2 linked regions of the Homo sapiens genome follow. The protein of the gene in region 1 purifies or fractionates together with the protein of each later gene. This does not show direct contact. Each region holds a gene or a part of one and is shown on either strand. Other genes may lie near its edges.

The links.
Region 2: the proteins of MAPKAPK5 (region 1) and BCL7B purify together in Homo sapiens (affinity purification with mass spectrometry; one large-scale study listed by BioGRID and IntAct). This does not show direct contact.

Annotation. Positions count from the first base shown.
Region 1 is NC_000012.12:111,887,161-111,890,973, forward strand, and holds part of MAPKAPK5 (MAP kinase-activated protein kinase 5), read left to right. Parts: intron 1-1,327; coding exon 1,328-1,458; intron 1,459-1,724; coding exon 1,725-1,840; coding exon of another isoform or gene 1,841-1,846; intron 1,847-2,879; coding exon 2,880-2,984; intron 2,985-3,813. UniProt on the Homo sapiens protein: Tumor suppressor serine/threonine-protein kinase involved in mTORC1 signaling and post-transcriptional regulation. Phosphorylates FOXO3, ERK3/MAPK6, ERK4/MAPK4, HSP27/HSPB1, p53/TP53 and RHEB.
Region 2 is NC_000007.14:73,551,171-73,554,983, reverse strand, and holds part of BCL7B (B-cell CLL/lymphoma 7 protein family member B), read left to right. Parts: intron 1-1,314; coding exon of another isoform or gene 1,315-1,436; intron 1,437-2,741; coding exon 2,742-2,817; intron 2,818-3,813. UniProt on the Homo sapiens protein: Positive regulator of apoptosis. Plays a role in the Wnt signaling pathway, negatively regulating the expression of Wnt signaling components CTNNB1 and HMGA1.

The sequences.
Region 1 (3,813 bases):
CTTTGAAGGGGTAGGGTGGAAGTGTTAGACGTCTCTTTCTAAGTTTAGCTGGAGCATGGAAGAAAAAGGAGAACTGGAAAGTACAGTTCTCTGCCTTCTCTTTGATTTGTGGGTGGTTGTCTTCCTGTTGTCCAGAAATGGTTTGGTCATTCAAAAATCCAAAGGGATTACTTAGATCCTGGTTGTCAGCACATAGAGGTTACTCAAGATCTTAAAAATGAGGAGATAAGGCCAGGCATGGTGGCTTACGCCTGTAATCCCAGCAGTTTTGAGAGGCTGAGGCAGGCAGATCACTTGAGGTCAAGAGTTCCAGACTAGCCTGGCCAACATGAGGAAACCCCATCTCTACTGAAAATACAAAAATTAGCTGGGCGTGGTGGCATGCGCCTGTAATCCCAGCTACTCTGGAGGTTGAGGCAGGAGAATTGCTTGAACCTGGCAGCGGCAGAGGTTGCAGTGAGTCAAGACTGCACCACTGCACTCCAGCCTGGGAGACAGAGCAAGACTCTCTCAAAAAAATTCTTGTTGTGAAAATTCAGGTGGTACAGCCGTGTTAAAAAGTAAAAGTTCCCTTTCATTCCCTGCCACAGTCACACCCCTCAGAGGTGAGGTAATCTATGGCTTGATGTATACTTCCTGATCGTTTTCTGGGATACACACACACACACACACACACACACACACACACACACACATTCTGTCCTTCTTTTAAAGTACAAAAATGGAAAAAAAAATACAAAAATGGGATCATATTCCTATGAAGCCTTCTGATGATTTCGTCTGCCCGTAGTGAGATTATACACTGTTCATAAAAGCACAAACTTCCAGAGTTCCAGACTCCATGACAGCTATTTCTCACTGTAAATTACTTGACTGGTTGTGGCCTCGGTCATGTGGCCTCAGCCTTGGCCATGTGAGATGGTCAGGGCTCTGAGCTGTCAGGGCTGAGGTGAATCAATACCGTCTGTAAGGCTTCTTGGGCAGCAGCCTGCCAGCCTTTCCGCTGATGTCCATATGTGCCTCTTTACACTTCCCCTCAGTAGTGGCTTTGAGTGGGGTTCCTGCTGGTATTTCTTACTCGCATTTCTGTCCCCCCACCAGGGAAGAAGGGCTAGTTGTTGTGTGACCTTTGGTTGGCCTGGTGTTTCCTGGTTCCTGTTGATCCATGGGGAAAAGTCCTTTGCCTTATCAAAATATTTATATTCCTTCAGCATAAGAGTGAAATTACCTTCTTAGTACTTTGAGCTTTTCCTTTCCACTTTCTTAGACTGGCTTTTTAGGTGCCCAGCAATGAATATGAAAAACTGACGGCAGTGTTTGCATTCAGGCAGTGGTTGCAGGAATCCAGCAGGCTCACGCGGAACAGTTGGCCAACATGAGAATCCAGGATCTGAAAGTCAGCCTCAAACCCCTGCACTCAGTGAACAACCCCATTCTGCGGAAGAGGAAGTTACTTGGGTAACTGAGCTTATTTCTTCGATTCTTCTTCATGGCTGGAATGGCTGAGTACTGGGTTCTGAAATTTAAGAAATTTAACTTGCTCAGCTAGGGGTCTTTAGCCTCTGAAGAGGGTGGAGAGGATAAGTTCTTTAAATAGTATCAGGAGTTGGACACTATTGTTATTTTTCTGATACATCTGTTGCCTTATGTTTAGAGGTAATATCTGTCCAGAGTTGGTTTTTGGGGTCTCACGTTGTCATTACCCCTCCCTCAAACTCTTAAAGCACCAAGCCAAAGGACAGTGTCTATATCCACGACCATGAGAATGGAGCCGAGGATTCCAATGTTGCCTTGGAAAAACTCCGAGATGTGATTGCTCAGTGTATTCTCCCCCAGGCTGGTAAAGGTCACACCATTTACTAATCCTCTGTGTGTCTGTGAGTGTGTGTGTGCAGGGGTGGGTGGGTGTATGCATGCACATGGCAAAAGGAATGGTTTAATTTTGGGTTGTCTGTTTCATCTTGTGTTATAAGAAAAGTACATTATATAAGGTAGTCTATGCCCACTAAAAAGATTGGACAGTGGGAGCTTAGAAATGCAGTTAAGTTCTGCCCCTCCTTTGTTTCTGTGGAATTTCTAGTTTAGACTTAATTGGCAGTGTCAGGTGCAAGCATGCAATTTTGTGTTTTCTTAGTTTGACAACAAGGGCACAGGTTGGGGGATGGAGAATGGAAAATGTGGGTAGGGTCTGAATCTCATTGCAGGCTGTTAACCATTTCCAGAGCCTTTAGAGTGCAAGGCTGCCATTAGCTCATAAATAAGAGAATACCTCCTTAGTTCAGAAGTGGCTCCTGCTGCTACTCATGTCATGGGCAGAGTGACTTACACGTGGGTCCTTTGGAGTGAGAGCTTTCTTTCGTTATGTTCTCTCTCCACTCATCGGCGGGTGAGGGGCTATTCTCAGCAGATAAATGAGATGCTTCACGTACTAGGCCAGAAAACAGTTGGGTTGACCTATCTATCTCCCTAGATTCCTTGGGTTTTAAGAGAACTCATGTAGTGTACCTCAGATAGCTTTCTAAAGTAAGAAATGAGCTTAGGGGAGAGAAAGTAGCCCACTCTCCCACTTTTTGGTCTTTGGTTGACCAGGTGTCTTTTGTTCAGCAATAGAGTCTGCCACAGCCTATTTCCCATCCCCTGGTGCTAAGACTCTGGGGCCATCAGTGGATTTGTATAAAGATGTCAGAGTAAAAAAGAGTCCACATACCAGATGCGGTCTACATAATGTAGGGACTAGCAGTAAAGCCCTTGTCTGGTGAAGTTTTGCACATTCAGTCAACATTTTTCAACCAGTTGGACATCACGTCCCTCCATCTCTCACACTAAAACCCCATGATGCTGCAGGAAAAATGCAAATTCCTCTTCATCCTTACCAATAGGAGAGAATGAAGATGAGAAACTGAATGAAGTAATGCAGGAGGCTTGGAAGTATAACCGGGAATGCAAACTCCTAAGAGATACTCTGCAGAGCTTCAGCTGGAATGGTAGGAGCCTTCATCAACTCCCTTCCCCAGGAATGCAGACAAGTGATTATGTTTAGAACATATAGGATCTCTTTGGGGCCTGAGCTGCGGCTGTTTTGAAGTGAAGTGAGGCTGGCTGGAGAGTGAGTGGAGCATTGTGGAATGGGGGTTAGCTCTACATTAACTGCCCAGGCATACCTGGATATCTGGCCCTTTCACTTATTTTCCGGAGTTCAAGTGAATTGTGTATTGCAGATTCAACACTAGAAAGCCCCCATCACACACCACTTGGGTAAAAAAAACCCCCAAATTTCAGAACTCCTCTCAGATACCAGGACTATTCACCAGGTCATTAAGAAGCAACAGATGCTGAAGGGGAGAAAGAGGACAAAGTGCCAGCGAGTCCACCCTGCTGATCCCGCTGATCTGCTTGGCTTAGAGAAGAGCTGTTTCACGAAAGAGGAGAAAGTTTGCCAAATCTACTGCTGGTTAAGTTTTTTTCCCGAAGCAAATAAGGTAGAGATGAATTTCTTGAACTGCCTTGTTTTTCTTGAGGCGGAGTTTCACTCTGTCCCTCAGGCTGGAGTGCAGTGGCGCAATCTTTGCTCATTGCAACCTCTGCCTTCCGGGTTCAAGTGATTCTCCTGCCTCAGCCTCCCAAATAGCTGGGACTACAGGCAAGTGCCACCATGCCCAGCTAATTTTTGTATTTTTAGTAGAGATGGGGTTTCACCATGTTGGCCAGGCTGGTCTTGAACTCCTGGCCTCAAGTGATCCACCTGCCTCAGCCTCCCAAAGTGCTGGGATTACAGGCGTGAGCCTCTGTGCCTGGCTTGAAACTGATTTTAAT
Region 2 (3,813 bases), on another chromosome or scaffold:
CTTGTTCCCTGCATCACCAGGGCCTAGCACAGCCTGTTGTATACTAATTGGTTGAATAAATGAGAAAATGGAGTGGTCTGTTCAGGAATTAATTTTAGTTATTTTCTAAGACTTTAATTCGCTCCTTCTGTTACATCACAGTCTCTTTACACTCCCAGTATGTCATCTGTTTTTTTTTTTTTTTTTTGAGACCCAGTCTTGCCTGTCACCCAGGCTGGAGTGCAGTGGCGTGGTCTTGGCTCACTGCAGTGTCCGCCTCTGGGGTTCAAGCAGTTCTTCCGCCTCAGCCTCCTGAGTAGTCGGGACTACAGGTGTGCGCCACCATGCCCGGCTAATTTTTGTATTTTTAGTGAGGACAGGATTTCACCATATTGCCCAGGCTGGTCTCGAACTCCTGGGCTCAAGTGATCCACCCACCTCAGCCTTCTAAAGTGCTGGGGTTGCAGGTGTGAGCCACCGTGCCCGGCCCTATTATGTCATCATTTGCTGAACAGCATCAACAACTACAACAGCAGTTGCTTTTTTTTTGCTTTTTCGTGACTTCATATTTGGACTTGACTCTTTGAGAAGTTGGCTCAGATCTGTGACAAAGCAGTTCCCTGCATTTGACCCTTGTTCCTACTGACAGCAAGTACCTCTTAAGGTATTGGTGGACCTTAAAATAAGCAAATTTGTTCTCTGCCTGCACGCTTAGGGAATAACCTTCTTGGAATGAAGGAGAGGCTGGGCACGGTGGCTCACACCTGTAATCCCAGCACTTCGAGAGGCTGAGGCAAGAGGATCGCTTGAGCCCAGGAGTTCAAGATCAACCTGGGCAACATGGTGAAACCCTATCCTTACTAAAAATACAAAAAATTAACTGGGCGTGGTGGCCTGTAGTCCCAGCTACTTGGGAGGCTGAGATGGGAGATTCACCTGAGCCTGGGATTTTGAGGCCGCAAGGAGTGGTGATCACGCCACTGCACTCCAGCCTGGGTGACGGAGACCCTATCTCAAAAAAAAAAAAAAAAAAAGTCTCCTTTGTTCTATCTCCTCCACACATTTGTTTGCAGACCTCGAAGGCACTCTGTGGGTAAGCTCAGAACAGTGGCATTCTAATCTGGTGTAGATAGTTGGGGGTCCTTAGTCATTTAGAGAGTGACCTTGTGCAAGGCTTATCCCTTTGCTTATTTCGTGAGCGTAGTGGACTGATAAACTCTGCCATTTTTACCCCTTTGGAACACAGCAAGAGACAGGATTTCTACAAAGCTTTGAACTTCAAAGTTGAAATTTAAAAATTTCTTTAGACTAGTTTTCTTTCTTTTTTTTTTTGAGACGGAATCTCGCTCTGTCACCCAGGCTGGAGTGCATTGGCGCAATCTCGGCTCACTGCAACCTCTGCCTCTCAGGTTCAAGCAATTCTCCTGCCTCAGCCTCCTGAGTAGCTGGGACTACAGGTGCGTGCCACCACACCCAGCTAATTTTTTGTATTTTTAGTAGAGACAGGGTTTCACCGTATTAGCTAGGATGGTCTCGATCTCTTGACCTCGTGATCCGCCCACTTTGGCCTCCCAAAGTGCTGGGATTACAGGTGTGAGCCAGCGCGCCTGGCCTAGTTTTCTTTTTCTTTATGCAGTCTTAGTAACCCAGAAAGGGAAAGGTTCCTAACATTTCACACCCACCAGGCCATACCCCCCAGCAGCAGGTGTCTCTCCTGAGATTGTTTGCCCCTTGGAAGGGTCTTTAAATGGACACAGGAGGCCAGGTGTGGTGGCTCATGCCTGTAATCCCAGCATTTTGGGAGGCCAAGGTGGGCAGACTGCTTGAGACCAAGAGTTCAAGACCAGCGCGGGCAACAAAGAGAGACCCCCCACCCCCACCCCACCACCCCAACCATCTCTACAAAAAATAAAAATTTGGCTGGGCGTGGTGGTGTGCGCCTCTAGTCCCAGCTACTCAGGAGGCTGAGGTGGAAGGATTGCTTGAGCCCAGGAGGTCAAGGCTGCAGTGAGTTATGATTGTGCCACTTCACTCCAGCCTGGGAGGCAGAACGAGACCCTGTCTCACTAAAACAAACAAAGAAAAGGAATGTAGTAATAGAACTCATATATTTGGTAAAGAGAAAAGCACTCAAAGTAACTCGCATGCAAGTAAAAAAGAATATGGTGCTGTGTGTGCTACCTTCCAGCCTTATGTCCCACATCCTTTTTTTTTTCTTTCTTTCTTTTGAGACAGGGTCTCTGTTGCCCAGGCTGGAGTGTGGTGGCGTGATCTCAGTTTACTGCAACCTCTGCCACCTGGGCTCAAGGGATCCTCCCACCTTAGCCTCCGGAGTAGCTGGGATTACAGGCACACGCCACCACGCCCAGCTACTTTTTGTTTTTTTTTTGTAGCGACAGAGTTTCACCATGTTGGCCGGGATGGTCTCGAACTCCTGACCTCAAGCGATCTGCCCACCTCAGTCTCCCAAAGTGTTGGGTTTACAGGCGTGAGCCGCTGCGCCTGGCCTGTATTTTTTTTTTAGAGATGAGGTCTCGCTAAATTGCCCAGGCTGTTCTCAACCTCCTAGGCTTGAGTGATCCTCCTGCCTCAGCCTCTCAAAGTGCTGGGATTTCAGGTGTGAGCTACCATACCCCACCAAGAGGAAGTTCAGAAGGATTCCAGATTGAAGGAATGATCTGCTGAGTAGTAGAAAAACACAAGTGATGAACAGAAAACACATTGCATTGTTTTATCCGTTCTAAGAAGTGTCTTTCTTTTAGGGAGAAGAAGTGGGTGACTGTGGGTGACACGTCCCTGAGGATATTTAAGTGGGTTCCTGTGACAGACAGCAAGGAGGTAAGTGTGGAAGAAAATCAAAAGATACCATTTTCTTTATTTCTTTATTTGATTGCCTCTTTTTTTTTTTTTTTGGGACGGAGTCTCGCTGTGTCACCCAGGCTGGAGTGCAGTGGCATGATCTTGGCTCACTGCAACCTCCACCTCCTGGGTTCAAGCAGTTCTCTGCCTCAGCCTCCCAAGTAGCTGGGGTTACAGGCATCTGCCACCACACCCAGCTGATTTTTGTATTTTTAGTAGAGACGGGGTTTCACCATGTTGGTCAGGCTGGTCTTGAACTCCTGACCTCGTGACCCACCTGCCTCAGCCTCCCAAAGTGCTGGGATTACAGGCGTGAGCCACTGCACCCGGCCTAATTGCCTTTTAATTAAAGGAATTTATTTGCCCAGAATTGAGTGGAAAATACTTCAAGGTACCCTGTTATTGGTCCATGCAAGGCCTCTCTTTATTATTTTCCTACTTTATTCCTTTCCCTTAACCCAAGCCTCTTTTCCAGGGCTTGACAAACTACAGCCCTGGCGTATTCCTTAGGTTTGTCAGTATAGTTCTATTAGAACATAACTGGCTGGGCGTGGTGGCTCACGCCTGTAATCCCAGCACTTTGGGAGGCCAAGGTGGGCGGATCACTTGAGGTCGGGAGTTCGAGACCAGCCTGGCCAACATAGTGCAACCCCTGTCTCTACTAAAAATACAAAAAAAGTAGCTAGGCCTGCTGGCAGGCACCTGTAATCCCAGCTACTCAGGAGGCTGAGGCAAGGAGAATCGCTTGAACCTGTAAGGCAGAGGTTGCAGTGAGCCAAGATCCCGCCACTGCACTCCAGCCTGGGCAACAGTGTGACACACCATCTCGAAAATAAGCAAACAAACAAAAAAAACCAAACACATAAGTATGCCCACTGATTTCCTTATTGTCTGTGGTGCTTTTGAATTACAGTGGCAGATTGAGTGGTTGCCATAAGGCCAAATGGCCCGTAAAACCTAAAATATTTATCATCT